4 separate regions of the Homo sapiens genome follow, and all the other regions are linked to region 1. Evidence: fine-mapped expression QTL. A gene starts in region 1. Each other region holds a variant in brackets. All regions are shown on one strand. Distances are from middle to middle. Region 1 holds the start of GOLGA7B (golgin A7 family member B). Region 2 overlaps CRTAC1 (cartilage acidic protein 1). Region 3 holds the start of LOC107984260 (a long non-coding RNA gene). Region 4 has its middle 38 kb from the start of SFRP5.

The links. PIP is the estimated chance that this variant, and not a neighbour inherited with it, causes the effect. A credible set is the group of variants that fine-mapping cannot tell apart.
Region 2: its variant is the best candidate, but not a certain one, in a credible set for the expression of GOLGA7B in unexposed skin (GTEx, PIP 0.83).
Region 3: its variant is the best candidate, but not a certain one, in a credible set for the expression of GOLGA7B in subcutaneous fat (GTEx, PIP 0.82).
Region 4: its variant is the best candidate, but not a certain one, in a credible set for the expression of GOLGA7B in visceral fat (GTEx, PIP 0.53).

The regions. Positions count from the first base shown.
Region 1 is chr10:97,846,266-97,854,282 of GRCh38, reverse strand. GOLGA7B (golgin A7 family member B) reads right to left here and starts at 4,440. Exons shown (of 5, transcript NM_001010917.3): 1 at 3,968-4,440. The coding sequence starts at 3,979. It overlaps GOLGA7B-DT (GOLGA7B divergent transcript), which reads left to right and starts at 4,485. Exons shown (of 3, transcript NR_108035.1): 1 at 4,485-4,617.
Region 2 is chr10:97,874,304-97,882,320 of GRCh38, reverse strand. CRTAC1 (cartilage acidic protein 1) reads left to right here. Exons shown (of 15, transcript NM_018058.7): 14 at 1,929-2,072. MIR3085 (microRNA 3085) reads left to right here and starts at 6,424; the gene lies at 6,424-6,508. RefSeq lists enhancers at 1-317, 5,997-6,497. The variant A/G (reference allele first, on the strand shown) is at 3,880.
Region 3 is chr10:97,816,705-97,824,721 of GRCh38, reverse strand. It overlaps LOC107984260 (a long non-coding RNA gene), which reads right to left and starts at 2,825. Exons shown (of 3, transcript XR_001747563.2): 1 at 2,034-2,825. The variant A/C (reference allele first, on the strand shown) is at 3,203.
Region 4 is chr10:97,806,486-97,814,502 of GRCh38, reverse strand. No RefSeq gene overlaps it. Among named protein-coding and RNA genes, the nearest start is that of SFRP5, 38 kb to the right of the region's middle. The variant C/T (reference allele first, on the strand shown) is at 3,927.

The DNA of each region.
Region 1 (8,017 bases):
ACTGGAAACTAAGAAACTGGAACTACATCATTGCTCAAGCCCCTTTCATCTCTGACATTCTAGAGGCTTTATCAGGGATTATGAATGCAAATGTTTACAGGGGCTGAGCAATAAGTGGGCCAGGTGGGGCCTGGGGCTAATTAGAAAACTGGTGCCCCATCTCAAGGAGACAGATGACTATTGCCACGTGGGAATGTATACCCAGGTTGCCAGCACTTCTGGTGTCTCAAAAGAAGCCAGAAATCTAGATCTTTTTAACATCAAATATTCTGATTTTTGAATATTTCCAATACATTTTTAAAATGTATAAGCACTCAACAGACTAAGTAAGGCACACCCATGGACCAGACTCATTTCTAGAGCTGCTAGTTTAAGACCTCTAAATAAAGAATCCCATGGCTGGGGCCCCTTGGGCAAGAGCTAAGCCAGGCTCCAGGCCACTGGCCAGCTACTAAGTTTTCAGAAAGCTGGTGGGGTTTTCAGCAGAGATCCGTGATGCTCTGAAATCCTACCAGAGGATATCAAAATATGTGCACAACTCTCTCTGAAGCTGCAGTTTCTGTGTTTCCCCTGGGTGTCTCCCAGGGGGTTCTTAACTGACCCAGAGACCTGAGCCTCTCTCCACTTCTCACCTTCCTCAACCCTGCCCCTCTCTCCCATTGCCACCCCTGGCTCACTGGCAGCAGAGTGAAGACAGGGCCGAGAAGCATTTCATAAGGAAGAAAATCAGTGGTGAGACCCATGGGTACCAATTTTCAAACTGCAGTATGAGAAGGAGGGGGAGTCTGCCTGGAGAGTGGGTACCACAGGTCACACATTTGGCTCCTGTTCACCTGACAGTCAACTAGCTGGGGTGCAGAGGAACAAGCTCTAGAGTGCAAATGAGCTCCTGGTCCAGTCTGCCCAAGTCCAACAGGAGTGCCCCCCTGGCGCCATCTTCATCCTCATTAAAAACCATCTCATTCCATAGGATGCATGTGAGGCATCGAGAATTAGGAGGTTCCGCTGATGCCAGCACTCTGCTTCCTGGCTGGGGTGTGAAGGAGGAGTGAGGATCATGAGTCACAGACAGCCAGGTCAGGCCTAAGGATAAAACACCAGCCACAAGACCTCCCTTCTTCTCAGCCTGTACCAGTGCTCAAGCCTGACCCAGTTGTCTACTCATCATTAATTCCATGCCTCAAAGATCAAACCTCCAAACACCCTGCTTGAATAACGCTACTTGGATGCATTTAAAAATCTCTTAGAGACCAAACCCCACCACTTGGAGAAGCCCCTCCCAGCCAGGCACTTCCCAGTTGTCCTTGGCCATCTGGACTATTTCCCAGGGCAGACCCTGCTCCCAGTGACACACATTCACAGAGGTTTGCTGCTCAGAAAATGGGCTCATTGCAGCTCTCCAAATGAGGTCAGTGTATCACTCAGGAGGCTCCATCCCTCCTCTGAGTTCCTTACAGACACCTCTCCCCTAATGCTAACTCCTAAACAGAAATTAGGGAACAGAAAAGACCCAGTTTCCACCCATGAATTTCTTCCCTCTCCCTCACCCCTCCCTCTCTGTCCCTCTCCCCACCCCCTTCCTCTCCCTCTCTCCTTCTCTCAATACAGCTTCTCCTAGAGCTGAGGAGTTCCTATTGAGAATCCTAACAGAATAATCATGGGAACTTAAAGCGATGTTTTCCCTCTCCCAACAAGTTTATCCTGGTAATCTCAACTCAATTCTAACAGTAAAAACAGCCTTGGGAGAATGACTCACCCCACAACCCAGAATACGTGCAGGTCCTGTGCCCTGGCAGAGCTAAGGCTTCCTGCCTCAGTTCTGCCATCAGAGTCCACCCAAGGCCAAATTGTGAAGTGAGGAATGTTTGTCCTCAGCTCCCCATCACTCCGGGACTTTCCTCTGTCCCTCTGCCCTCAAACCAACCCAGCCAGGCCAAGCAGGGGGCCTGAGTCCCCACACTCCAGCCCTTCATGACTTCCTTTGCATCCCTCTCTCCACCAAAGCTTCACATCAAGACCTGGAGGGCCCTCCTCTCTATCAGGTGACACAATAGGCTAATTGGATGCAGGAAAAAAAAGCACTGGCCAAAGAGGCAGAAGACTCAAGTTCTTATCCCATCCCTGCCACCTTTTAGCCATATTTTCCTGAATAAGTCTCAGCACTTCAGTTCCATCATCTGTAAAATGGGATAATGATGCCTTCTTTGGCTCCTTCACAGGGACCAGGCAAGTTTCTGAACCTTAGTTGTCTCATCTGTTAATTGGGCATAATAACACCATCCTTACCCACTTCATAGGGCTGCTCTGAGGCTTGAAAGAGATCACTTATGCGATAGTGCTTTGTACACAGGAAAGCGCAATATTTTCAGAGGCGTTATGAGCAGAGCCCCTCCCAGGGGAGAGTCACACATGTCTCATAGCAGCCTCCTGGAAACGCTGTCTTGACATAGAGATAGAAGCCTGCTGGTTGGAATCTGTGGGCCATGGCAGACATCCTGGGACAGATGGGCCTGTTGGAATCTGTCAGATCACATCGCAGAGGCAGCTGCCTTCTCTGCCCACGCTGCTGGCCCAGCCATGCCCATGTAGCTGAAGTTCCCCTTTTCTGTCCAACACAGCAGCCTCTGCTGCAGTCTGGCAGCCCTATCTGGAAGGTAACCAACTCCTTGGTTTCTCCCTTTGTTCTTCCTGCTGTCCTCCATGTCTTTGGTGCTTTGTGAGTACTCTGCATTCCTCTACTCTAGAAACCAAGCTCCCAGGGTCTGCCCAGGGCTTGCCCTCACACCAAGTCCTGAGGGGCAACTCTCCGCCTAGCTAACCTTGTGCCTTGTCAGAATGCCAAGCAATGCCAAGCAACAGCACCTTGTTCTGTGGTGGAAACTTGAGTGGAATAACAACAGCCACACTTGGTATTAATGTCACACTGCTCACCAGGATGCCCAGAAGCACTGCATTGAATCATTCACAGGCCTCTGCTCTCCCCCAGTGTATGCCAGCTGGATTGGAAATGGGGAGACACCACAAAGGAAGTCAACATCAGAACTGGGGAGACCCTGATGTCCTGAGTTTCGCTCCAAAAATTCAAAGGCAAAAACTTTCCGCTCTGCTGCTGACATGCTGTGTGGAGTAGCAAATTAGTCCTTTCGTTTTCCACACATCACCTTTATCATGTATAAAGTGGGAACATAAAGAGCCCAATCTCCCTCCTGAAATGAGGGGGGAAAGGGCAATCCCTAGGGGTAGAGGGGGGAATCCTCGACCTCAAGCATTATACCAAGATTCTGCCCTTAGCTAACAGGCCCCGTGGTTCAGCCTTCAAGTGCTTGAAGGTGACACACCTATCAGTGCACCTTGAAGAAGGCAGAAACTCCCATCAGATGGAGGGGAAATCTGGACACCCTGGGACAAAAAAAAAAAAAAAACTCGAATGGGGTAAAAAAGCAAGAAGGGTGATATGCAAAAGTGGAGACCAACCATTTGGGTTCTCAGCCTGAGGATGTCTTTGTCCCCTCCCTCCCGCAAAGGAAATGCGGATGTAGAGGTAAGTCTGTCATCCCTTAGCCAAGCTTTTGGGTTCAGAAGCTGACTGCATAGCAACAGCGGACAGCCGCCTTCCCTCCCCTCACACACGCACACACACGCGTCTCCAACCCTCTAGGAAAGCGGTTTCAGGACTTGTGAAGTCCAGGGAAGGGGAAACCCCAGCCTGGGGCCCTGAAGCAACCCTGGCGCTAATGCCAACAAGTGTCGCGGACAGCTTGGGGGCTCAGGTGGGGCGAGGGGAAGATTGACACGCAAGGGGGAGATGAGCCCTCACTAAGCCCCTACCTCCTCCCTCCAGACCTGACCTGGGGAATCACCCCATCCCACCCCCAACTCCCGCCTCCCACTCCTGCCCAGCCCACCCCTAGGGCATTTGGTCCCGCGGCAATCGGGCACTGCCTGCGGGTGGGGCGCTCGCCCCTACCTCGGTGGCCATGATCCGGGGGCGCTCGGAGGCTGTCGCGGGGCCGGGCGAGGGGGGTCTCCGCGGTGCTGACCCCGGGAGCAGGTGGGCGGCGGCGGTGGCGGCGAGCTGGGGCCCGGGGCGCTGTCCGCAGTGCTGATGCGGGCGCCGCGGGCCCGGGCTCAGGTGGGCCGGGGGCGGGCGGGCGGCTGGGTCCAGGCAAGGGGCGCGGCGCTGTCCGCTGTGCTGAGGCAGGCGCCGGGCCCGGGAGGCGAGGCCGCGCCCGAGGCTCCTCACGGCCCGATCGCCCGCTGCCGCGGCTCCTGCAGGCAACGGCCGGGTTTAGCTTTGGCGGCGGCGGCGGCGGGGATGGGGGCGGCCGGGGGAGGAGGGGCCAGGAGCCGCCGCTGGCCGGGAGGGGGAAGCCGCGGCCCCCAGACTCCGGCGCCGCCGGAGAGGAGCCCCGCCCGGGCCACAGGCTCGGCTACCGCCCCGCGCGAGGCCCCGCCTCCCCTTCCTGCCCTCCCCCTCGTGAGAGCCCCGGAGCTCTGCGCTCGCTTCCGTGGCCCCCGGGACATCCAGCCTGAAGGACAGTGGGGCAGGAATTTTTCCGGGGCAAGACGCTTCAGCCTGCAAGGCTGACCGCTCCCGAGCCGCTCGCAGGCCCGCAGGTGAGGCCTCTCTACCTTTCCAGCCACCCCCAGTGCCCCGGCTCTACCCCTCCCTCGCCCCGCCCCCAGCTTCCTCTTTAGAATAATTTCTTTTCTTTCTCTCCCTTTTCCTCTCTGTGTGCCCCCCCCCCATATACACACAGTCAGGCTTGCACGGACGGCCCCTCTTTTCCCCTCTCCTTTGCACTTCCTGGAACCCCACTAGCTAGACAAAGATCCTGCCGACCGCAGAGAATCATTTCCTTTCTTTAAATACGTGCCCACATTTCGTTCTCAGCCATAGCCTGGGGTCCCTTCTTTCAGGCAGCTCCAGAATTGAAGCCAGTCTCTCCTTGCTGCTCTTCCTGGACCTGGTCCCCACCCTTTACTCTTCCCTCTCTCCTCTGCAACCCGAGTTTACATACACGCACCACCACTACCACCACCACTCAAAAACCACAAGCAGATGGTGCCAAACCGGTATGCTCACTCTCCAAGGATGGCAGGTCTGGCTCTGGTGCCACCTTCGCACTTTTGACATCATAAATTCCAACTAAATGATCTATTTGTTTAATAAAAAGGAGACCAGGTGCAGTGGCTCACACCTGTAATCCCAACACTTTGGGAGGCTGAGGTGGGAGGATTGCTTGAGCCCAGGAGTTCAAGACCAGCCTGGGCAAGACCCTGTCTGCACAAAAAATGAAAACATTAGCCGGGCGTTGTGATGTGTGCCTGTGGTCCCAGCTACTCAGAAGGCTAAGGCAGGAGAATCACTTGAATCCAAGAGTTCAAGGCTGCAGCTAGCCATGATTGTGCCACTGTACTCCAGCCTGGGCAATAGAGCAAGAGCCTGTCTCTTAAAAAAATAAAAATAAGGCCGGAAGCAGTGGCTCATACCTGTAATCCCAGCACTTTGGGAGGCCGAGACGGGTGGATCACCTGAGGGCAGAAGTTCAAGACCAGCCTGGCCAACATGCTGAAACCCCATCTCCACCAAAAATACAAAAAAAAATTAGCCAGGCATGGTGGCACCCGCCTGTAGTCCCAGGTACTCAGGAGGCTGAAGCAGGAGAATTGCTTGAACCCGGGAGGCAAAGGTTACAGTGAACTGAGATCACACCATTGCACTCCAGCCTGGGCGACAAGAGCGAAACTCTGTCTCAAAAAATAAATAAATAAATAAATAAATAAAATAGACATAAAAAAAAGGAAACACCAACACAAGTGCCTTTTTACATACCCATAATACCCCTTGGTCTCTTTGAGGGGTGGTGGGGTGTGCTCCTCTGCAGCTCACTGCTGCCTGAGAGTCTGAAGCCCACACACAGGGAGAACCTGGCGGCCAAGAGACCTGGCCCAGGCTTTTCCAGCTGTATAACCTCGAGCAACTGTCTTGTTTTCTGAGCTTATGGTTCTCTTTCTGTAAAATGTGAGTGTTGGATTTCACTAGACTGTTTCTAGGACCTTTTGTTTTTTCTCCAACCTTTTATTTTGACATTTTTAAACATACCAAAATGTTGAAAGAATAGTACAATAAACTATGCCATCTACCTAGCTCCAACAATTGCTTTTTGCCACATTTGCTTTATTGATAGATATGAAAACAGAGCTATATTTGCCTAGATTATCAGAAGGTGACAGATATCGTGGCCGGGCGCGGTGGCTCACGCCTGTAATCCCAGTACTTTGGGAGGCCGAGGTGGGCGGATCATGAGGTCAGGAGATTGAGACCATCCTGGCTAATACGGTGAAACCCCGTCTCCACTAAAAAATACAGAAAAATTAGCCGGGCGTGGTGGTGGGCACCTGGGGAGCTACTCCCCAGCTACTGGGGAGGCTGAGGCAGGAGAATGGCATGAACCCAGGAGGCAGAGCTTGCAGTGAGCCGAGATTGCGCCACTGCACTCCAGCCTGGGTGACAGAGCGAGACTCCGTCTCAAAAATAATAATAATAATAATAATAATAAGGTGACAGACATCGTGAGGTTTTATCTGTAAGTACTTCAATGAGATTTTATCTGTAAGTACTTCAATTCACCATGCATCTCCCAAGAAGAAAAGCGTTATCCCAACTAGGCACAACACCATTCTCATGCTTTATTTTATTTTATTTTATTGAGATAGGGTCTTGCTCTATCACCCAGGCTGGAATGCAGTGGCACCATCTCAGCTCACTACAACCTCTGCCTCCTGGGTTCAAGTGATTTTCAGCCTCCCAAGTAGCTGGGATTACAGGCACGCACCACCATACCCAGCTAATTTTTGTATTTTAAGTAGAGACAGGGTTTCACCATGTTGGCCAGGCTGGTCTCAAACTCCTGAGCTCAGGTGATCCGCCCACCTCAGTCTCCCAAAATGCCAGGATTACAGGCATGAGCCACCGCACCCAGCCAATTATCATGCTTTTAAAATGCCCATATTATCTAATATTCTAGAACAGTTTGTCACCCCTAAAACACATTAATAGCGATGACCCCTCAAAAATTTTCCCAGAACTTTTCATTTTTAGTAGCTAACATTTAGTGAGCACTTACCATGTGCCAGCCCATATGCTACACACTTTACATGTATGATCTTACGTAATCCTCACAATTACTCTTTGAGTTGTGTTCTTGTGATCTTTTTATTATTCCCACTTTATAAATGAGGGAACTGAGTAAGTTGCCCAAGGTCATAGGGTTTGTGGGGAATGGAGACAGGATTCAGACATGGGCAGTCAAGCTCCAGAGCCTGTGTGGTTGATCCTCCTAACTGTATTGCCTCCCTCCAGCATCTGGTAGACCATAGACTAGCAGAGCAATGACCACATCTCCAGCTGCCTATTTTGCAGATGAAAACGCTGAGTCCCAGAGTGTAAGTGACATGCTAAAGAAGTTAAAGGCGGGTGTCTCATTCTACCTTATAGTTTGGCATAGGATTTGGCATAAAGGACCAAACAGAATATCTATGAATCCTGCAGTGGTCACTGGTAATAAAAGAACACATAATCTGATGATCTCCATGTAAATTTCACAGTTCCTCCCACTTGATTTTTATCACATCAATTAGACAACCTTCTGGAAACCATTCTCTTCACCTGATGACTAGATATCTGGATGAGGCCATTCAACAAATCCATTCATCAACATCTATTTGTTGAACACCTACTGTGTATCAGGCACTCTTCTAGGAAATTGGGATACAGTCGTGACTAAAAATGCAAAGCCTCTGTCCTTATTGAACTTATATAGTAATGGGGGTAACAATCCATGACATAAGCAAATATGTGTAAAATATGTCAAGTTTTGATCACTGCTAGGAAGAAAAGTGTGATCACTGCTAGGAAGAAGATATGGTAAGGAGATAGTGATAGAGAGGGCTTATTTTCGAAAGAATAGTCAGGGAATACTTTTTTTGATAAGGTGAAATTTGGGTAGAGCCC
Region 2 (8,017 bases), 28 kb before region 1:
GTAGCTGCAGCACTACCAGGATGGCAGCTCCTTGACGGTCCAAGAACCTTCTGAAAGTCCCCAAGAGCCTGGAATGGGAAGGGGCAGCCTAGAAGTTCAGTGTCCAGGAGACCTTCACCCCCAACACTTTCCATCCCAGTGACCAGCAAGGAGGGGTCAGGCCAAGGATCCCTCCTTCCTTGAACCCTCATCCAGCATTCTTCCCAAGTCTACTCTGCAGCTGCTCATTAACCCTTTGCTACTGAGATACAGGAGTAAACAAGACAGATACCACTCTCAGGAGCTGAAAACCAATGGAGAGCCACAAAAGTAAACAGCTGTCGACCACACAGTGTGATCAGGGCCCAGATGGGGGAGGGCAGGGGCTTGGAGATGACAAAGCAGGGGCCCTAAACCAGCCTAGGGAGGGTCCTAGAAGGTGCCCTAGAGAAAGTGAGGTCCAAGCTGGGCCCTGAGGAATGAGGAGCAGTTCGGCAGTCACAGAGAGGGGAGACATGGTTCTGGTGGGGGGCACTGTCTGAACAAAGGAGCACAGGTGGGGAGGTGGAGGAGCAGTGGTGCCAAGGGTGGCTGGAGGAGGAAATGACTCCCCTACACTCTCCACATGCCCACCCAGCCCCACTCCAAACACATAGTGCAGGTGCATAGAAATTCCAGAGTCTTCTCTGCCTGCAGGAAGGACCCTTTGAGATCAGCCTCCTCTTCCTTTTCATCGCCCAACAGGCAGTTATGTGCCTCGTACACAGCAAGTGTCATGCTGGGAGCTGGGGATGTAGGCCAAGTGCCACCCCCGCGCCTCCACAAGAGGGGCATCCATTCTAGTGGAGGGAGACAGACCCTGAACGCATGACCACACACCTGGACAAGATGATTTCAGAACCCTCTGAGCAAGGTGCTCCCTGGAGACTGTTCCAGAGAGAGTGGTCAGGGAGGGCCTCGGGGGGAAGACTCTGAGCTGAGACCTGAAGGATGAGAAGGATCTAGGCCCAGAAAGAGTTGAGGGAAGGGCAGGAGTGAAAAGCGGGAGACAGGACAAAGGCTTTGTGTGTTGAAGGAGCAGGAGGGATGCCAGTATGGCCTGGAGATGATGGAGAGTCCATGAGGCCCCTGTAGGGAGTCTGAATTTTGCTCTTAGGAGCCTTAGAAGCTAAACTGGGGAGTGACATGATGTGATTCACATTTTTAAAGGCTCCCTCCAGCTGCTGAATTGCAGAGTGGATTGGAGGGAAGAGGGGAAGCCAGGTATTCTGTGAGGAGGCAGCTGCAGAAATCCAGGCAAGAGGTCACGATGGCAGGAAATTGGGTGGTGGCAGAGGAATGAGAAAGAGGTGACAGAGAGAGGTGGACTGGTGGACTGCGGGGCAGAGTGGACAGGCTCTGCTGTGAAATTGCACAGGGGGCAAGAAAGACGGAGAAATCAGGGGTCGCTCTGATTTCCCCTTGAGCAGCTGATTGATGATGGGGGTGTTGATTGAGCTAGAGAAGACAGAACAGAGGGCCAGAATATGGGCAGGGCAGGGCAGAATCTGGAGTTCTATTTTGGACATATTAAGCATGAGGTGCATCTTAGACATCCAAGTGGAGCTGTCAAGTAGGTCATGGGTTATTGTATTCGTGAGTCTGGAGCCACGGGGAGAGGTTGTGACTGGAGATAGAACTTTCGGAATCATCCATGCATGAAGAGATCACCTAGAACGATTGTAGTAGACAGAAGAGAGGACCCAGGACCAAGCCTGAGTGCCCACCCCCTGCCCCCAGCATGTAGAGACCAAGTACAGGAGGAGCCAGCCAAGGGAACTGAAGCAGGGAAACTGAGGCTCTGCGAGGAAGGCACATTCCCAAAGCCAGACAGTGTATAGGCAGGCAGAGCCTGGGCTGGTACTTGCTGCCCCACACCTTCATGGTGAGTGGTTCCCCTCGCCTTGCAGACACCAATGAATGCATCCAGTTCCCATTCGTGTGCCCTCGAGACAAGCCCGTATGTGTCAACACCTATGGAAGCTACAGGTGCCGGACCAACAAGAAGTGCAGTCGGGGCTACGAGCCCAACGAGGATGGCACAGCCTGCGTGGGTGAGTGGGGCCCCAGCCATAGGCCAGTAGCAAAAGGATGTTGCTTTCCACTGGGGAGCTCTGGGTAGGCCCCAGATCAAGGTCCCCAGCCCCTTCCTTCTCCTGGCTGGATAGAGTCTCCTTTGACCCATATTGGGTCTCCAGGGAAGACCATGACAGAGGCTTGGAGAAGCCCCATCACTTCTACCATCACCTGAAGGGCCAGGGGATGCTGTGTCCTGGCCTGAGGCTATCATTCTTCTTACTTTTCCTAAAACAACTGTTCCTACCTTGAGGTCAGCCCGTATTTTCATAGCTGGGATATAAACTAACTCCTACTACTCATCTTTGGCTGAATTTCTAAACTGGTAATTTCTTCTTCCCAAACTCCTTCCTCCACCCCCACCCCGTCCCCACCCCCTTTCTCTTTTTCCCATTTTCTGTCTCCCCGCCGCATCGTTTTTGCAGCTCAAGTGGCCTTTTTAGGTGGGTATTCTTCAGCCGCCTCTAGAATCTCTGAGCCTCTCTCTCGGGCCTCATATCTTTCTCTAGGCCTTGGACTTTGCCTTCAGTTATATGCACTTTAAATCCCATCAATAAAGGAAAAAACAAAACAAAACTAACAGCCTTTGTGGAAAACTAAATCTCTCTCCTGCTGCTTGTCTCTCTCTCCACGCCCAGTAGGTTCTGCTGTGTGCTCCCTCTGAATGGACAACAGGGGTGGCCATCTTTGAAAAGGGAAGGTTGGGCGATACTGACACAACCTTAGTTGTTTGTGAAGACTTTCTTTGCATGTTTTCTGAGAAAACAGAAAGGAAAGTCTCCAATACCCCATCCAGTCTCCCTCACTCCTTCAGAAGAATCAAGATAGTCTTGTATCCTCCAGTGTCTCGTGAGCTCATTATTTTGCCCTTAACAAAGATGGCTCCCAGGTGGTTGCTTGCCGGTTGATCCGATAATGTACCATGTGCCTGCTGGTTTGGCCTGTGCTGTTTCTGCTTTTTGCCCCTGACTTCCTGTGCTAGAGAAAGCCTTATTGGTGTTGGTGGTGGTGATGGGAGGGAAAAGGGTGGTCCTTTGGGACTCTTGATAAAAATGTTATCATTTGAACTTGCTAAGCCTTCCAGCCTCTTTTCTGAAGAAATTATGCCAATAAACTCTCTACTAGATATTAGTGCCAAACTGATGATAAAAAGGGTCTGGGGCAAGTAGAACTGATTGGAATGCTGAATTAGGAGCAGCCCTTCCACCATGAGATGCTTTGAAAGCAGATCATAACACAAAGCAGGTGTCACCCTCAGGCACCAGCAGTGGTTTGGTTGCGTACAACAATGTTCACATTTGGGGGACCAGGGTTTGGGCCAAGTGAAGGATGTGTGATGAGTGAGGGGCAGAAATGGAGTGTGTACTCTAGGCCTTTTACCTGCAGGAAGTCACTTCTCCATGCTGTGCCTCAGTTTCCCTAATGTAGATGACAAGAGAGTTGGGCTGGTATATCCCTAAGGGCCTTTCCTTTCTAAGACTCCTCAATGTCTGGCTGGACATAGGCCTGGCTCATCTCAGGTTACTCTGATTTCTAGAAAGAACCTTGCTACTTGGTCTCTGCAATCTCCTTGGAAAATAGAATGCTCCTGTAGCCAGAACACTCTTTGGAAATGATGTAACGCCACAGAATATGCTCACGACCAGCCTCAGTAGTGAAGGCTTGTTATAAAACATAGATCTATTCTTCATGGGGAAAAAAAGTCATCCCAGGATATAATAAAATTACACTTAAGAATGCAGCAACCCTTTTAAAAACATATTCAACAAAAAAAAAGCCCCTGCC[A/G]TTTTCTGATATCATGGTAATACTCCTAATAAATCACAAAATATGAATTCCTTGTAGCTAGTGCTGTTTTTACACTTAGAACAGAAGCATAAATGAAAAGTTTTTAAATTAAAACAGCTACAATTTCCCTGAAAAGCAGACACCAACTTAAAAATCATTCCACTTCTAGAAAGCCCATTCCTGTGTATTGACATAGAACTAAAGATCTGAAAGGGCTCCAGAGATGAGGCTCAGAGAGCTGAAGTGTTCAAGGTCACTGTGCCCAAGGTCATGGAGCCCACTGCTCCCCAGGCCAGGGCTGGAGCCCTTTCCCACCACACCATCTTGTCAGAGGGTAACAGGCAGCTCTGTCACTGTTCAGACTATTCCCTAGTCCTTCTGGAAGCTGCTGCCTTTTAAAAAATGAACAAAGTGGATCTAAGATAGTGAGATAAGTAAAACCCAAAACCCATGGAGGAATGGTTCCAAATGCAGTGGTAAATGACAAGATAACAGAGCCCATTGACTGTCCATACACAACAGCACAAGAAATAAGGGACAAGACAACTACAGAGATGGCCTGCCAAGGACATCAGGGGGTTCAGGGTGACAGCAGACTTCAGATGATGCCTTATAAGTGACAACCATGAATGCCTTCACAATGAGTTTTATATAACAGGGTATATCTGTGTCATGTGATCCTGTTGGGTGAGTGGGGTCCAGTGAGTTGCAAAGAGGAGTTCTAAGTTCCCACAGCTGATAAGAGCACCACTGCAGCACTCAGACTCCAGGATAAGGCTTCCATTTGATTCATTCATGAGTTCAACAGATACTGATTGAGCACCTACAATGTGCCAAATATTTGGTTAGGCTCTAGGCGTACAATGGTAAATGAAGGTAACAATGGTAAGTAAAAGTAATATGTGTTGATCCCCTACTACTATGTGCAGGTACTGAGCTAGGCTCTAGGCATACAATGGTAAGTGAAAGCAATATTTGTTGAGCCCCTACTGTGTGCCCAGTACTGAGCTAGGCTCTAGGCATACAATGGTAAGTGAAAGTAATATTTGTTGAGCACCTATTATGTGCCAGGTACTGAGCTACGCTCTAGGTATGTAATGGTAAGTGAAGGTAACATTGTTGCCACCCCTACGCTGCCTTCCCTCCAGCCAGATAGAGGAGCCAAGTGCATGGGATGGGAGTGGGACACCAAGGGGCTTTCTAAAAAGTTGAGCTGAATTCTCAGGTTGCTATACCAGAAAGCAAGCTCTCTGCATTCATTCATTTACATATTCATTCAGCAAGCATTTATTGAGAATATCCTGTATGACAAGCACTAGGTTCCTCCCATGAGGAATGTGATAGAGACCCTCTAATGAGGTGGACAAGTCCCCTGCCCCCAAGATGCTTGTGTTGCAAGAGATACAAGGCTGAAAGATACAGAGGACAGGTGGATAGTGAACCCACTCAACATTACCTACCCCCTTACCAAAAAAAAAAAAAAAAAAAAAAAAAAACAGAGCCTCCTCATTGAGCTAGCAGTACAGGCTTTTTGAACAGGTGCCTCAAATTCAATGCATCTACTGGTCTGTGCTATACCAGCCACAGATTTGCGGGTGCAAAGCCACCCCCAAGCTACCCAGGCTCAGCATTCCCATTCCCCTCTTTCTTCTAATCCCTTTCTCTGAGACCCGTGGGAGCCCAAACCGTTCCGTCCCCTCCTGCACACAGATAAGTCTGTCTTTTCCCTGTCCCTTAGCCCCACCTAGGCTCCTGACATCTTTGTTGCCTTATGCTACACTTTAATTTGTAACAAAAATAACAAATGCCTTTAGGGGCAGTCAAGTAATGAAATGGACCCGGAAGGGATTATGCAAATGGAGGAGCTGGTGCCCCACCTGCCTGCACCAGGCAGCCACAACTCACTCCAGTGGGAAGGTGGGCCAGTGCTGCCACAAAAATGCTCCCCATTTTTCAACAAAAAAGAAATAATAAGAATAATACCATTTTTATTCTGCTCAAGAATACTCCCTCTTCACAGGCACATACCCCTTAAAATGACAATAATAGCTTACATTTAGTGGGCTTGGCGTGTCTGGGTTGAATCTAAACTCTTTACAATAATCAACTCGTTTAATCCTCATAATAATCTCAAGAGGAAGGTATTGTAATTATCCCACGTTTACAGATAAGCTAAATGGTTTGTGCAGGGTCATACAGCCCAGACAGACGAAGGCAGGACTGGATCCCAGGAGTCTGGCTGTCAGCTGGCACTCTCAACTACCACTCCCTTCTTCATTTGGGATGGTGAATTGGTTTAAGCAAAAGCCACAGTCACTCATGCTGCCCAGGATCAAGAGCAGGATTGGGAGGGGAAAAATGGAGCCCCTGGAGGCCTAGTGATCTGAAATAGTCCTCCCCACGGTCACGTTCAAGTCTGCAAGAAGAGGTGGCAGTGCTTGCTAATGTCGAGAGTCCCCTCGCCAGGCGGGCTCAGCCAACCTTCACTGAGGCAGAATGGTAAACCATCCACTAGGCCTCTTCAAGCATCTACACGGTTGCCAACCCTACTCTGGGAAGGTGCCATTCTGAGGGCCAGGAGTTTGATTATGTGTCACTCTGGCTGCTATGGCCCCCTCCCAGGGTCTGGGTATCACACCCAGGCCAGTGCCACTGGACCTCGGCCGAAGCAGGAACTCCGCTCCAGACTCCAAGAGCCCCGTGTAGACAGGAAGATGAGCACTTCATTTTTGCAGGGAGCCAGCCAAGTTCTTCCAACAGATTCCAGGCTGAACCTCCACCCAGACTTCCAGCCCAGAAGGCAAACCGAGCCCCTCCCTGCCTCCCTGTGCCCAGGGCCAGTCTTCTCTGAGGCCAGAACCCCAGCCACAGGGGCCAGGAACATGCCAGAAGTTGCTGTTGTGTCTGTAGCAACAGGCATATCCTGGAAGGAAGGCAAGAGAACATGGGCTGGTTAACACCACAGATGACGCCAGCCTCTCCCACGGTGGCTTGTCCTCTAAGGAACTACTGTTGACAGTGAAGTGGTCAAAAAATAGGCCACCAGAGGGAAAATGAGACGCAAGAGAGAAGAAAAACATCCTCCAGGAAAGCAGCTAACATTTATGCAATGCCTGCCATATGCCAAGAACTTTACATCCATGTCTCCATGAATACTCACACCCATCCCAGAATATAAATGTTATGAGTCTATTTTATTACCAGAGAAACTGAGACTCAGAAACAGTAAATTACACAAAGTCACATAGCTAGCTAAAGTGGCAAGAGCTGTAATTCAACCTCATGACTAGCTCCAAAGCCTGGGTTCTTAAGCCTTATGCTGTGCGATCTCTAGGTAACTGACACTGGGGAAGTTATTTAACCAGTTGTTCATGTGATGTACAGTGACTGAACGCCTACTGTGTGCTGGATGTTGTTCTAGTGGCTTGGGATATACATCTGTGAACAACACTGGCAAAGGTCCCTGCCCTAGCAAGACGTGGCAGGCACTAAACAATACCCAGAATAAGGAAAGTCTGTAGCATGTTGGAGCATGATACGTGCTATGGAGGGCTGGAGAAGAGTAACATCAAGGCCATCCGGGAAGGCCCGGATGGAGGTGGAATGCCATTTTAAATAGCGGCGGGGGCAGGGGGGCTCCCTGAGAAAGAGGCATTGAGCAAAGACTTAAAGTAGGTAAGGTGTCTTTGAACCTCAGTTTTCCCATCTGCAAGATGGGGATAATACCTCACAGAGTTATTATATTAGACTTGACATGGTGCCTGGCACATAGAAAGCCCCCAACAAATTAGAGATACTATTATTAAGTAGCCACGTTCAGGATGGAGCCCCGGGCCCGTTCAGTGCCAAAGCTCCTGTGCTTCCCGGTACACCCTGCTGCCACCCAGGACACCTGTGGTGGGAGAGATGGGCAGGACGGGGCCACCTCTGGAGAACTGACAGATTCACCAGAAAAAGATGGCAAATGGCCATAAGGTGCAGAGCCAACCTTCCTGGGGCCTGGGCTGTGCTATGTTCTGCTGAATTCTCATGCAGTGCCATTCCCAGAAAGAATAGTCATAAAACAAAGTGAACTGAGCTAGGCGGGCATGGCATGGACTGGGCCATACAGAGCAGAGGTCACCAGGAGCTAGTGAAC
Region 3 (8,017 bases), 30 kb after region 1:
TCAGCATCTTAATCCCCAAAGGCATGACACCTGACATCAGTCTCTTGAGTGGCCTGCAGGGAAGCCATTGTCCAAGCTGTGTGCAGCCACCAAATCCACTGACTAAGCTCTGAATCCGCAGTCTCCTGAGGTTGCCGTTTGTTCTCTGTCTATGGACTGCTACTACATGTGCAGCTGCACTGTGCTTGAAACCTCAACAGCGTATCTCAGGGGTGGGTAAGGGAGGCTGGGATAAATGGAGCCCCAGCCTCTGAAGGCCTGACGTGGAGGTTGTGCAGCTCATCCCTGGGGAGTCCTATCTAGTGGGGGCTCGGGGGGCGACTCGGGGATCTGTACCATAAGCAAACTCCTCCAGGGATTCTGATGTGCTGCCATGTTGGGGACCACCAGCCTAATCCAGCCCTTCCCTCATGGAGTCCCCTCCTCCACACCCTCACAGAAGACCACTCATCGGGGGACTGGGAGCTCATCACCTCACAGGTGGCAGTGCCCCAGCAGTGAGTACACAGGCTGTGCCACGCTGAAATCTGCGTCCAGAATCCTCGTCTGCCCTCTGTGGCTGACCAGTCAAATGTCTCTTCTTCCTCAGGAACAAAATCAGACCCTATTGCAGCCCTGTGTCCAACCGCTGGCCGCCCAGATACTGTTCCTGCCCGGGGGGCTCCTGGTGTCCCCTTAGGCCTGACAAGGGAGAGACTCTCCGTGTCCAGCACGCAGGCTCCATTTGCGGGTAACTGCTCCTCCTCCTGCCCCACCCACACACGCCCATCTGTGCCAGACACCGCCGAGCACCAGGACACAGTGTCCTCCCCAGCCTGAGACCAGAGCAGGCCTGATCAGGAACACGCAGGACCCTGCCTTCTCTGCCCAGTGGCCTCTTGCTCCTGGTGCCATCGTGTCTACTTGAGATATTTCCAAATAGAGAATATAGAAACAATGAGCATTCCTCCCAAGAAACCGGGCTTGAAATCAGAACACCTGGGTCCTCCCAGGGCCCCCATCACTTCCAGCTATGGGACCTTGAGCGAGTCCCAGGGCCCATCTGGTGAATGGGGCTGCTGAGGGAAATTCAGACAAGCATCAGAGCCCACCGTGCCCTTCCCTCTCGGTGTCAGGTGTTTTCTGCCTTTGCCTGAGCCGTGGCCACACTCCCTTGCTAATCCTTCAGACGACTGACACGTATACAGCTGTTGCCCTGGCCTGAGACCCTGATGTGGCCTGACCGGCATGGGCCCCTACCCAATGCACTAACTAGCAGCAAATGAGCCTTATTAAAAAATATTTGAGGCCGGGCATGGTGGCTCATGCCTGTAATCCCAGCACTTTGGGAGGCCGAGGTGGGTACATCACTTGAGGTCAGGAATTCGAGACCTGCATGGCCAACGTGGCAAAGCCCTATTTTTACTAAAACAAAAAAAAAATACAAAAATTAGCCAGACGTGGTGGCGTGCGACTGTAATGCCAGCTACTTGAGAGGCTGAGGCAGGAGAATCACTTGAACCCGGGAGGCAGAGGTGGCAGTGAGCTGAGATCGTGCCACTGCACTCCAGCCTGGGCAACAGAGCAAGACTCTGTCTCAAGAAAAAAAGAAAAGAAAAAAGGCCAGGTGCAGTGGCTCTCACCTATTTATAATCCCAGCACTTTGGGAGGCTGAGGAGGGAGAATTTCTTGAAGCCAGGAGTTTGAGACCAGCCTAGGCAACACAGGGAGACCACATCTCTACAAAAACTTTTAAAATTAGACGGCTGTAATGGTGTGCGCCTGTAGTCCCAGCTACTCAGGGGGCTGGGATGAAAGGATTGCTTGAGCCTGGGAGGTTGAGGCTGCAGTGAGCCAAGATCGCACCACTGCACTGCAGCCTTGGCAACAGAGCAAGACTATCTCTAAATAAAAAAAATTTTTTTTTAATAATTGCATAGAGCTGCCTAGCACAGTGCAGGGACATGAGGGTTCAGTAAATATTTGTGGTATCTAATTTAGGAACACCAACCTGTACCCACCAAGGAGAATAAAAAATATACCTTAGTACTCACCTAGTTCAACCTTTTCATTTTACCAATGAGGGTTCCCAGAGAAGGGAAGTGACTCATCCCAGGTTTCCCAGCAACTTTAGTCCATAGTGGCTCAGTTTGCCCAGCCAGAAATCCCCAATGCTCCCATCGAAGGTTGTGGCGCTGACAACATCACAGCTGAGAGGAGGACTCCATGGTGCCCAGAACCCCCGCAGCGCCATTCACCAGAGGTGGACAACACTCCCTCCCGGCATCCCCCTGGGCCTGGCTTCTGACCAGAACCCTGCCCTGGACATCTCAAAAGCCCTCAGGACCTCGGTGCTGCCACCTGCTCACAGAGTGTGGCGGGTACGGGGGTGGACAGCCCACGTCCCTCTGCCAGGTTATTTATAAAGTGTTTTCAGATGAGTCAGGCACGGAGCTGCCCAGCACCACCAGGGACTACCCCCTAGAAATGCTAGAATGATCCTGAGCTCTGGAACCCCACCCCACCCCTTCATAGCCTGCTTCTCATGGAAAGCTAGAGGCAGGAAGGTGAGGCCAGGGCTCTGGGGCTGTTGTGATGCCCCCCGTGAGCCCGGGCAGGCCAGGCTTGGGAGACAGATGGGGAGGCCCCAGGAAGGAGAAGAAGGGCCTCGGACAGGCCCCCTCCGGGCCACAGACCACATGCCCCTTCCCCTTCCCCCTCCCAAACAAGAATGACGGGACAAGCCCAAGAAGACAACCCCCACCCTGTGCCCCAGGCGCTGGCTGCTCGCACCTCCATTCCTGTGTGTACTGCTCTCCGCCTCCGCCAGGAGCCCAGCTATTTCTATCTCTATGGAAAGGGAGCCCAAGCCTCCAAGCCTCCTGCCCCCCTTTCCTGCTCCTGGCAGTGCTCTAATTAACTCCTCAGCTGGATGCCGCCTGCCATGGGTACTCTGGCCAGGGCTGCCATGAATAACTGCACCTGCGCTCACACCCAGCTTCCCACAGAGGCTGGGCCCAGTGCCCCTGCAGAGAGTGTGACCACTGGGAGCCTGGTCCTGGGGGCCTGGACTCCCCCGGCTATGCACTCTCCTTTGGGAGCCTGAGCTGAGGGCATATGGGGGTCTTTGGGACCCACCCTCTCCTCTGCAGCCTCCACCACAACCCTGCAGGGGCTACTTGCTGGTTCAGCAATCCTGCTGTGTGCCTGGCATGGGGCTCAG[A/C]CCTGAGCAGGGAAGGAGTCGGGAGGGCAAGGAGATGAATAAGCCTGTCCTCCCTCAAGGGAGGCAAACACATAAACAACTCATTATGCAATGAGAAGGAATGAAGTTAGTGCTAAATTAAGGTACAAGCTGGGCACCAAGACTGCAGGCCCTCAATTCTTCCCCACTTTTTTTTCTTATTATAAAAGCAATTCATACTCATTTTACAAAGAATTTATATATGCAGATAACAAAAAGAAAATTATAATACATTCTTTATCCATCCACTCAAGGACAACTTTGTCCATACCTGTGGCCCAGACTTCCAAACTTTTTTTAACAGAGCAAGGACAGGTCACAGATCTGAGGGTCTCTCCTCCAGGGACCACCCGCCTGGCTCTGGGACAGTCTTTCCAACTTGAAATTCACAAGAAATGCATAGAAAGATTTCAAAGCAAATAATATGGATAGTATGACAAGTTCATGTAAAAAGAAAAATCCCAAAACTCTATCAATGCCTGGAAAATGTCTGGAAAGATACTTACTAAAGGGTCAACATTTATCAGCTAGGGGGAAAGTGATGGAGGAGCAGATAGACTTTTTTCTGCTAGAAATGTCTTTGAATTGTTACAATAAGCATGGATTTATATAAACTTTATGATTTTTTAAAATGAAAACTTTTTTAAAAAAATTGCTCAAGGCATAATTTCCAAATTTTCTATGGCGTTGTCTTATCTTTGCACTTAGAATAATATAATATGAAAACTAAAAGGAGGTACAGCCACTGTGGAGAGCAGTTTGGCAGTTTCTGCAAAAGGTAAACAGAATTTCCGTATGACCCACCAACTCCACGCATTTGGATATGCTCGAAATGACTGAAAACAGGGACTCCCCTTGTTCACAAATGTTCATCACAGCACTATCCACAGTAACCGAAAGGTAGAAACAACTCAATGTCCATCAACGGCTGAATGGATAAACAAATCGTGTTATGTACATGCAATAGAATATTACTCAGCTATTAAAAAGAAATAAAGTGCTGACACTTGCTATAACATGGATGAAACTTAAAACATTACGCCAAGGGAAGGAAGCCAGACATAAAAGGCCACAGAGTCTATGATTCCTTTGAAATGAAATGAACACAATAGGTAAATCCATAAAGGGAGAAAGCAGATGAGTGGTTACCAGAGGCTGGGGGGAGGGAGAGAATGAGGAGTGATTACTTAATGGGCACAGGGTGTTTTTCTGGAGTGACGAAAAATTTTGAAACTAGTGGTTTTGAAACTGGTGGTTGTACAACATTGGGAATATACTAAATGCCACTGAATTGTATAATTTTTATTTATTTATTTATTTATTTATTGAGACAGGGTCTCACTCTGTTGCCCAGACCAGAGTGCAGTGGGGTGATCTCGGCTCACTGCAACCTCTGCCTCCCAGGCTCAAGCCATCCTCCCATCTCAGCCTCCCACCCCCAGCTCCCACACCACCACACCCAGCTAATTCTTCTACTTTTTGTAGAGACAGGGTTTCACCACGTTGCCCAGGCTAGTTTCAAACTCCTAGACTCAAGTGATCCTCCCACCTTGGCCTCCCAAAGTGCTGGGATTAGAGGTGTGGACCACCACACCCAGACTGAATTGTACACTTTAACACGGTTCCTTGTATGTTATGTGAATTTTATCTAAAAAAAAAAAAAAAAACAAACAAACAAACAAAAAAAACCACAATGAAACATTAAAAATAATAAAAACAAAAACAAAAGCAAAAAGCTTAGTCTCACTCAACTTTCATGCCCCCCAACCCCTGACCACCTGGCCTTCGAGGGTCTTGAAGGAAAAATCTTCAACCTGCCCACTGGCAGGGCCAAGCCACTTGGCTCCCAGAAGGCCTTGGAGAGGCAGGGGCAGTCCAAGGGAGAAAAGTACCCCCAAGTAAGAGAGGGGAGAGGAGCGCAGAGGCAGGAGCTGGGCCAGGCAGACAGAAGAGGGAAAGCAGCCATCCTGCACCAGGCACCACACTCCCGAGGAACCCTCGGATATCCCTGAGAGGTCAGAACTGCTATCCCATTCTTCAGATGAGAAAACCAAGGTTCAGTGTGGCTTGGAGGCAGGGCTGGGACCTCCTGACTCCAAGGAGGAGAGGCAGGGGAACCTGGCATAGCCCCAGGTTGTTTTCTATTTGTTCCATCTATTTTTTTCCCCTTTTCTGCCTTCTTTTGGACTATTTTTGATTATTCCATTTTATCTTCTTTATTGGCTTAGCAGCTGTAACTCTGCTATTTTAGCAGTTGCTTTAGTGTTTATAGTACACATCTTGACCTTTTCACAATTTACCTTCAAGTGATGTTGTGCCACTTCACATCGAGTATAAGAACCTTACATTTACAGAATTTACTTCCATTTCTCCCCACCTGGCCCGAGTTCCCCCTCTCTGGGTTGTGGCCGAAAACACTCTCCAGGTAGTAAGCAGAGACAACCATAGAGCTCTGTGGGACCCCTGAATCTTGTAGCCTAATGTCTAGTGTCTTGAAAACCATTATTTCATATGTTCTGTCTGTTTTTTAAAAATTGTTTCAGGCAGGAGTATAAATCCAGTCCCTGCTACCCTGTCTTGGCCAGAAGCAGAAGCCCCCAACATGCATAGGAGGAAACCAGGACTCAGAGGCTAATCCCCTCACCCAAGGTGAGGGAGCCCATAAGTGGACAGGCAGGAATCCAACCAGCCCTGGTGCTCTCTTCCCTGGCCCACTGCTCCTGCATGAACCAACTGAGAATGCAGAAACCACTCTCAGTAGGAGAAAGTGAACTTTTGTCACCACAGCAAAAAGCTGCTCACAGCATTGTTACTGCTTTGGAAGCCAGTGGGACAATTCTTTTGCATAAAGTTACCCATTAAAGAGCAACTTTCAGCATCTTCCAAGCCTCACCTTAAATGCTCTCTCTTTGCATCTACAGAAGCCTCTGTGGCATATTCCCCACGGTGTTTGCTGTCTAGCAGGATGCATAGGTCTGCTGAGAATGTAGGATCAGCCCCCTATAAAAGTACTCTGTAACCTATAATATGCTGTAACAGATGGAATTGTCTCCCCACTTACCCTCCCATGAGTATTTTCTGGCTCAATCTAATCACCTAGGTGGTGGAATTGCGGTAACTCTGAGTGTGTGTATGTGTGCATACGTGTGTGTGTGTGTGTGTGTGTGTGTGTGTGTGTGTGTGAGAGAATTTGGAGGCAAGGAGGAGGCCCGTTTTTATCACACTAGTCAACTCACTTTACGTTCAGGGATCTATTTGTCTTTAAGCAGAGGGAGAGGTATTTTTCCTTAAAATCACTTGAGGCAGCTGGCTGAGGCCAGATTCCGACAGAATCTGATGGGGGACGGGGCCTAAAATAGCCTTCAGCTCCTCCCCACCCTCTATCTTGCAGGCAGAGAGGAGTCGGGGCCCAGTTCTTTCCCAAGCCCTCTCCTCCACCAGCTGACCCCAGAAATACTTTATTTAGAAAATCAATCTGAAAGCAACAGGAAGGACTTTCATTCCTACCAGCACCTTGTCACACATCAATTTCATTTAAGGCTCTACAATTCCACAGCTGTGAGGCGCAGGCAAAGTCCTTAGCCTGGCCAAGACTCAAGCTCCTCATCTGTAAACTCCCAGGACTGACCGTTAAGTGGCAAACATGATGCATGTGGCACAGATTGGGAGCTTGAATCTTAGGCTTCTTTCCGTCCTCCTCATAGTCCATTCACCTTGTTGAATGTTGACAACAGCATTCAGCTATTGGTGTTACCAGCAAAAGTGTTACCCAGGCCGGGCACGGTGGCTCACTCCTGTTATCCCAGCATTTTGGGGGGTCAAGGCGGGCAGATCACCTGAGCTCAGGAGTTCGAGACCAGCCTGGCCAACATGGTGAAAACCCGTCTCTACTAAAAATACAAAAATTAGCCAGGCGTGGTGGTGAGCACCTGTAATCCCAGCTACTCGAGAGGCTGAGGCAGGAGAAACACTTGAACCTGGGAGACGGAGGTTGCAGTGAGCCAAGACTATGCCACTGTACAATCGGAATGAGTGAGACACCATCTCAAAGAAAAAAAAAAACAGCATTACCCTTAGAAGTCTGTGTCCTGCTTGTCGGTCTGTTGCTTCCAACTAAAACAGATGGAAGGAAAACCCATAAACAACACCCTCCCTGCTCCATCCAGATCAGAGGTTTTCAAAGTTTGCTGCCCATTAGAATCCCCTGGGGAGTTTTAAAAATCCCAACACCAGCTGCACCCCAGATTCATTAAATCCAAATCTCTGGGGATGGGGTCCTGGCATCAGGAAATGTTAAAGCTTCCCGGGGGCTTCCTGTGTGCAGCTGGGGTTGAGAAGCCATGGTCTGGTGTGAGAGGTCCTGAATGCTCTGCCTGCCCCACCCTCTCCTTCACCTGCAATCCCAGCACATCCCTCGGGCTCCCTGAGTGCAGTAACCAGGATGCAGGACCAGACAAGTTTGGGAGAGTGGGACATTTAGGGAGCCCGCATTCTCAAGTTCTGGCAGGAGTGGGTGGGGAGTGGGCCCTTCACCACCCTGAGAATGAGGGCCTCCCATATTTTGCTCCCCAGGAACCTCATTATTAAGGAAATGCTCTCTTGCTGGGCCACTTCAAGAACCTGAGCATAAGCGCCTCCTTACGTACGCCCTGGCCACCACGAGGGTGCCTCCCTACCCCTGCCCCTCCTTACCTACAAAGGGCCATGATTCCAGCCCCCTGGCCAGAGCCCAGCAACTGTCAGGCCACCTGGCTGAGAGGCAAGCACACCCATCAAAGGGAAGAGGAGACAAGGTGT
Region 4 (8,017 bases), 40 kb after region 1:
ATTTTACCTCAATAATAAAAGAAAAGAAAATAGCAATGGACAAAAGGAAGAGAAAAGCTCCCCACATATACCTACAAACCCAAGAAGCTGGAGACCTCCTTACCTGCTCCTTGGGGAAGTTTAAAGAGAGGCACAAAAGCCAATGAGGTATAAGAACCTTGCTCCCAAATAAGCCACGGTCCTGATTTCTAACAAAGTGAGCCAGCCAGCGGGTGGCCAAGTTCAACTGCAAATACATAACTGAAAATCTGCTCACAGTAGAAGCCTTGAAGGCAGGAGGTAACACCACATTTAGAGTCCTCCAGCCTTCTCCCATAAAGCCACAGAGCATCCTCACAGCAACCCTGAAGCAGCAAATCATGTCTCCTATTCAGAGGGACATAAATAGAGGCCCAGGGAAGTTCAAGGACTTGCCCCAGGTCACACTGTCAGTGCTAGGACTCAAACCTGGGCTCCCAAGTCTGTGCCCTTCCTTCTACCTGCAGAAGAAAGCGTGCCCCTCCTAGGCCACCCTGCATTCGAAAGCAATGCGAATGCGCGGAACTGTCTATAAAAATGGCCAATTACTAGGGATAGTCATTTTACCCAAACTTGATTTGGGGAATAATTTTGTGGTGGGGGGCTAATGATCAGCCTTTTCTTCAGAACAATCTCTGTTCGCAGAGACAGTAGTCTTTGAGATGTGCCGGGGTGAGAGCTGTCTCTATCTCAGTCATTTGTCACCTACAGACTGGCACAGAACGCAATTCTGTGAGATTTGACGAAAGAGGACATGTCTTCCCTATGACAGATTTCAAAACAAAGTACGAAGAGGGCCTCAATAGCTACAAAGAGGGTCTGACAAAGAAGGGGGCATTCTCCTGAGGCTCTTCAGGCAGGCCAGGGGTGGGCCTGAGAAGTTGAGGGTGACATGGGAAATTAGAAAGACTGGTGGGCACCGTTAGTGCCTACCCTAAAGTCACTGCCTTCTCTTTATTGCTACAGACTCTGATATTTGTTCCAGCCTCAGAAGATGAATCATGATTGGGCTAAACAAACAAAGTAATCTCATTTGCTTTTCCCTGATTCTTACTTTTCCATTTTCCCTTGCCGTCAAGATACAGTTCCAGCCAGTGAAAAATAAAGACAAATCTGAGGGAGGGCTTCTTGCTTCCTGATAAAAGAGATAGACATTTAATGGAAGAAACTGTCCCTTTCTTCTCCTTCTTGCCTTGAATGTGGTTGAGTGAGGGCACGATGGCTGAAGCTGTGGCAGCCATCTTGCCATCAAAAGGTAACAAGCTTGTCCAGGCACTGTGGCTCATGCCTGTAATCCCAGCACTTTGGGAGGCCGAGGTGGGCGGATCACCTGAGCTCAGAAGTTCAAGACCAGCCTGACCAACATTGCAAAACCCCGTCTCTACTAAAAATACAAAAATTAGCTGGGTGTGGTGGTGTACATCTGCGGTCTCAGCTACTCAGGAGGCTGAGGCAGAAGAATCGCTTGAACCTGGGAGGTGGAGGTTGCAGTGAGCAGAGATCGCCCCATTGCACTCCAGCCTGGGTAACAAGAGCGAAACTCGATCTCAAAAAAAAAAAAAAGTAACAAACTGAAGAAAAGCAAACACAGTGAGGATGACTAAGCAGAGAGATGGAAAGAGCGTGGATCCTTTCAACATTTTTTATCTGCTCATCAACTCTGGATCAGACTTCTCAGATAATTCAGTGTCATCGTGGTTTAAGCCACTGTCCATGGGGTCTTCTGTTACCTGCATCCTATCCGACTCAAAGGGCAGAGGCAGACAGATACAGGCTGCAGGATTCAAGTCACATGAATGAGAGCAGGTTGAAGAAGCAGGGGCCGGCTGGTTGAAGACCTGGAGGGTGGCAAGAGACAGAGTTCTGCAGCTTCACCAGGTCAGGGAGAGTATTCTCATCATTTCCCAGGCTATCCAGCCTGCCAACAGAAGGCTGGACATGCTACACGGGCCCACTGCTCTGGTGGTATTCCAGATGTCTCTCATCGGCGATTACCTGAAGCTGCCATACAAAGAACTGTTGCCCTTTATAGCCACAGAGTTACATGGACCTGGGTTTTTAACATACTGTAACCTTGGACAGAGGAGAAAAGCTAATCTGTGAGGCAATGTGATCTCTTTTCAATTCAGTGCAATACAAAAAAAATAGCTAGATGCTTTGCAGCTGCATCCCATGCATTAATGAATAGGGCAGCCACTCTTTGTATTCTTTCCTGATGGTAAATTATCTTAAACTTTTTATATTATAATGACTTGTTCAAGTCAGGAAGTGCTGCAAAATCCACATGAATTAAAGATCAGACACAAGGCTTTAGACACCCTTCTCACTCGTAGCTGACTTGAATGGTGTTCACACGCCTCTGTCTCCAGGGGTGCTCTCAGGCAGAAGCTGGAGAAGCACCAATCCACAGCCACCTGTGAGCCAACTTATCAGCAAGGAGGTTCCACCCTCAGAGCATCAAACTGGGGCGGGTCAAAAAGGGTAGCTCAAGATCTTCAAGACCAGGGAGCCCAAATTCATGGCTAGAAAAAAGACACAATTCTAGGGACCAATTTAGGTTCAATAGGAAGCCTGAAGTCTGGGTACCAGGTCAGAGCTGAGCCCTGACGTCCAGAACCACATAGAACAAGAGCATAGCACAAGCAAGAAGAAGTAGAAGCATCCTGGAGGAAGATCTTTGCTAAAGAGTTTCTTCATGCCCACCTGAGCCTGCACCTGCAGCGGGAGGAAAGTGCTTCAGCTGGTTCGGGACAGGTGGCAGGATTGAGGCTGCAGCCAGGGTCCTCACAGTGGTTCATGTCTCCAGAGTAATCATCACAATGGCTTTCATTTGAGAGTTTGCCATGTACCAAGCACCATGCTCAATGGCTTTTCAAATCCTCACAAAGCCCCATGATTTAGCCCCTAGTATTATCCCCACTTGACAGATGAGGAAACTGGGGCCAAGAGAGGTTAAGTCCGTTTCCCAAGGCTTCACTGCCAGTAAGCGGTAGAGGCAGGTTTCAAAGCCCAAGTTCTAGGCTAGGTGTGGTGGCTCACATCCCAGCACTTTGGGATGCCAAGGTGGGCAGATCACTTGAGGTCAGGAGTTCAAGACCAGTCTGGCCAACCTGGTGAAACCCCCTCTCTACTAAACATATAAAAATTAGCCAGGTGTGGTGGCGTGCACTTGTGGTCCCAGCTACTCAGGAGGCTGAGGCAGGAGAATCGCTCAAACCTGGGAGACGGAGGTTGTAGCGAGCCCAGATCGTGCCACTGCACTCCAGCCTGGGCCACAGAGCGAGACTCCATCTCAACAACAACAACAAAAAGCCCAAGTTCTAAGTCATTTTGAATCCCAAGCCCACTCACGCTTCACCTCCCCTCTTCCTTCTCCCAGATCTCACCCTTCTCTCCTAATGTCCTGCCTGTCACTGTGTGGTTGGTGCTGTTACCTCCTGCTGCCATATGGTGACCTAATGATACCTGAGTGTGTTCCTTATCTCCCCAGGAGCCCTGTAAGCTCTTTAGGGACCATAAGCATTTAGGTTATGCTTTTGGCTGCAAGTATCAGAATGCCCAACTGAAAGTAGCTTATGTAATAAGGACACTTATAATCTCATACAAGAAGCCTGGAGGCAGGGGACATCCAGATTATGTTAATTCAGTGGCGCAACAAAATCAGGGCTTCGGGTCACCTTTTCTGGCATTCTCTGGGCTTACCCAACCCGGTCATAGAGGCCTGTGACAGTGACAAACATCTCATTCTCACGCAATAATATCCAAAAGACAGGAAGAGGCCTTTGTACGCCTTGCCTTAAAAGCCACTACAATTTTCCCATTGCTCTCTCGATGCACACATCTCCTGATGACTCATTGGCCAATTGTTAGACCGCTGAATACCTATCACATGCCCAGACCTAAGGCAA[C/T]CACTAGCAAGAGGACTGGAAATATATGTAATCAGAGATAAGACAAATGGTATGGGCTTATTAATATATGGCCTTTGGAGCTGGAGAAGGGGTCATGAAACACAGTTACCTGATACCAGAACAAAATCTCTTTCAGTCTACAAGGAAGGAGGTTTGACTGTGAATTGACAGCTATAGGATCTGATTCAGGGGCCCTGTGCATCTGGGCCTGTGCTAGGTACTCAGTAAACACTTCTGGTAGGCCAGGTGTGGTGGCTCGCCCCCATAATCCCAGCACTTTGGAGGCTGAGGTGAGAGGATTGCTTGAGCTCAAGAGTTCAAGACCAGCTTGGGCAACATAGCAAAACCCTGTCTCTACAAAAATATGTATTTTTTAATTTAAAAAGCTAAAAAAACACTACTGATGGTATTGAATGGTACCAGTCACTCCCAAGGATGGTTTGAAATATCTTCCTGCACCCACCCAAGCAACAGCAATTTTGGTCATCTTACAGTATGTCAAGTTAAAAAAAAATTCCCTTTGATATAAGACAGGTATATTTGTCCATATATATATATGTCATATTAGGTGGGAACAGTGTCAATCTCTAATAATAATATCAATAATCCTATTATCCAATATTTCTTTTGGCTGCTAACTATGTGCTTAGCAGCCCTTGTGTTCAGCAGCGAAGCCCCTGATATAGGCATGATTACTAGGTGGGAAGGCAGTATTTGTCATCATGATTAAGAATGCAGGCTCTGCCAAGCATAGTGGCTCACACCTGTAATCCCAGTTGCTTGGGAGGTTAAGTCAGGAGGAAAACTTGAGGCAAGGAATTGTTATATTGCCTGGGCAATATAACAAGACCCTATATCTACAAAATTTTTTTTTATAAAAACTTAGCCAGGCATAGTGGCATGCACCTGTAGCCCCAGATACTTGGCAGGCTGAAGCAGGAGGATCCCTTGGGTCCAGGAGGTTGAGATTAGGTTACAGTGAGCTATGATCATGCCACTGCACTCCAGCCTGGGCGACAGTGAGATTCCCGTCTCCAAAAAAGTAATGTAGGCTCTGGAGTCATATCCCAGCTCTGTCACTTGCTGTGGTGTGATTTAGGTAGGTCCTTGACTTCTCTAAGCCTCAGTTTCCCTGTCTGTAAAATGGGGGTCATAATAGCACTCTGGCTTTGGTGTCTAGCTGACCTTAGGTTTAAATCCCAGATCTGGCACAAACTAGTCATGTAACCTTAGGAAAGTCTCTTCACCTCTTTGGACCTACCTTTGCTCAGGTAAAATGGGGAAAATAAAGCCAACCTTATTGGGATGCGGGGAGGGTTAAATAAGAATACATAGAAAGCACATAGCACAGAGTCATCATTCAAGGGAGTGCCCAGGAGAGTAAAGTGTCTAGAGATCATAATAGATAAAAACTGGTCAAAAAATCCAGGGATCTTGATATGACAGCAGCCTGCAGATGTCTGCGGGGGTGCCATCTGGAAGACACACTGGGTTTACTTGGTCTGACTCCAGTGGGCAGAACCAGAACCACAGGGTAGAAATCTCGGGGAAGGAGATTTAGTTTCAAATAAGAAAGATTCAGCCAAGCATGGGGGCTTATGCCTGTAATCCCAACACTTTTAGAGGGTAAGGCAGGAAGATCACTTGAGCCCAACATGGCGAACCCCGTCTCTACAAAAAATATATATAAAAATTAGCCGGGGACAGTGGCGCATGACTGTGGTCCCAGCTATCTGGGAGGCTAAGGTGAGAGGATCACCTGAACCAAGAGGTTGAGCCTGCAGTCAGCTGTGATTGTGCCACTGCACTCCAGCCTGGGCGACAAGAGTGAGACCCTGTCTCAAAAACAAAGAAAGATTCCAGCCGGGCGTGGGTGGCTCATGCCTGTAATCCCAGCACTTTAGGAGGCCGAGGCAGGTGGATTGCTTGAGGTCAGGAGTTCAAGACCAGCCTGGCCAATATGGTGAAACCCCATCTCTACTAAAAAATATAAAAATTAGCCAGGCCTGGTGGTATGTGCCTGTAATCCCAGCTACTCAGGAGGCTGAGGCAGGAGAATCGCTTGAACCTGGGAGGCAGAAGTTGCAGTGAGCCAAGATCATGCCATAGCACTCCAGCCTGGATGACAGAGCCAGACTCCATCAGGAAAGAAAGAAAGAAAGAGAGAGAGAGAGAGAGAGAGAGAGAGAGGTAGGGAGGGAGGGATTACCTTTTCTCCACTGTGAACAATGGCCTTGTAGGTAGTGACTCTGGCGACCTAGACCACATCAGGCAGAGGCCAGCTGAGCCCAGATCCCATTATCTCTGAAGGCTAAATGCATGCATCCAATCAAGGAGACCTAGCCCCAGCTCCCAAAATGTTAAGGAGCTGCTCTCATATATAGTAGTCTTCAAACTTTGACATACATTAAGAAATGCTTGAGAAACACATTCCAAAAACCGACTCCAGGCCCCCTTCCTAGAGATTCAAACTCGGCAGATCTGAGCTGGAGATCTGCATTTCCAACAGGATGATGCAGGTTCACGTGGTCCAAGGGCCAATCTTGATGACCTCTGCCCTCAACTCCCACCTGCTGCTGTTTCAGAAACTCAAATGTGGGGGTCGAGTCCACAGTTAGGAACACTGCACACAAAGAATTGCTTTGAACTAAGAAGACAGACCCAGGGGAATCGTCCCCACCCTTGGAGGTGCCCAAAACAGGTGCTAATGAATTCTGGTCCTAAATCAGGAGGTGCAGCACGCAGCACCTAAGAAGGAGAAAAGTTATTCAATGTGATCTCTAGAACAGGTGGGGATGAGACAGCGAGTCAGGATGCTCCTCTCTAACATGCACCCACAGAGCCAGCCCTTGGAGAGCATACTGGGGGAGATCGGGAACCAGTGGTTGGGAAGGGGGCAGGACCCAACCATATGGGGTGCCACTCGTCTTGAGGCCTCTGTGATGCCACCCCCTAGAGTTGTCCACTGCTGGGGGCCCTAAGGATGAGGCTACAAATACACAGATCAACCCCTTTTGCAAAGCATTCAAAGCCCCTTAGAGTTGGGCCCCAGCCCACCCTACAGCCACCTTTTCCCCTGAGTGGCCCCTCCTGGAGCTAATTTATTTGCAAGAAACTGGGAATTCTATGGGCAAACTGCTCTCCCAGAGTATTCCTGGCTCCTGCCACATGGTTCTTCCAAGCCTGAATTTGCGCAGCTCCCGCCCACTTCCAGACCTTCAGGCATGGGTGCCCTTCCCCAGCTCTACCTCTGTGGGCCTTGGTGAATCCCGCTCAGCATTCAAAACCCCATCAAATGCCTCCTCTTATGGGAAGCCTTTCCAGTGTCCTGGACACAAACACACACACACACACACACACACACACACACACACACAGGGCAATCTGGGTCCCCCAGCACTGTGCTGTATTCAAGAACAGAGCTTTATACATCACCATGTAGCCTCAGAGGGCAGGGACCTTTGTTTTGCACACTGGTCACTGGCATATCCCAACTGCCCAGGACAGTGCCCAGCACACGGGAGGTGCTGCATAAACACTTGTTGAATGTGGCCAGGTGCGGTGGCTTGCGCCGGTAATCCCAGCACTTTGGGAGGCCGAGGTGGGCGGATCACTTGAGGCCAGGAGTTTGAGACCAGCCTGGCCATCATGGCAAAACCCCATCTCTACTAAAAATACAAAAATTAGCTGGGTGTGGTGGTGCGCGCCTGTGGTCCCAGCTACTCAGGAGGCTGAGGCACGAGAATCACTTGAACCCGGGAGGTGGAGATTGCAGTGAGCTGAGATCGCACCACTGCACTCCAGCCTGGGCAACAGAGTGAGACTCTCTCAAAAAAAAAAAAAAAACACTGTTGAATGCATAAATTTTGCAGGACCGAGGCTTCTGGCCACTTCAACTAGGTGAACCAGCAACACGCCAGGCACCACCAATATTCTCAGCTGGAGGAAGAGACTCCTGGGAACCTCTCTTGGTTATGTAAAGGTGAGGCAAGTAGACACTCATTGCCCAGGACCTCCTATGGCCTGACAAAGATCACCACGCCCAATCTCCCTTGGTACACAGAAGTAATTCCAGAGGAGCAGGTGGGTAA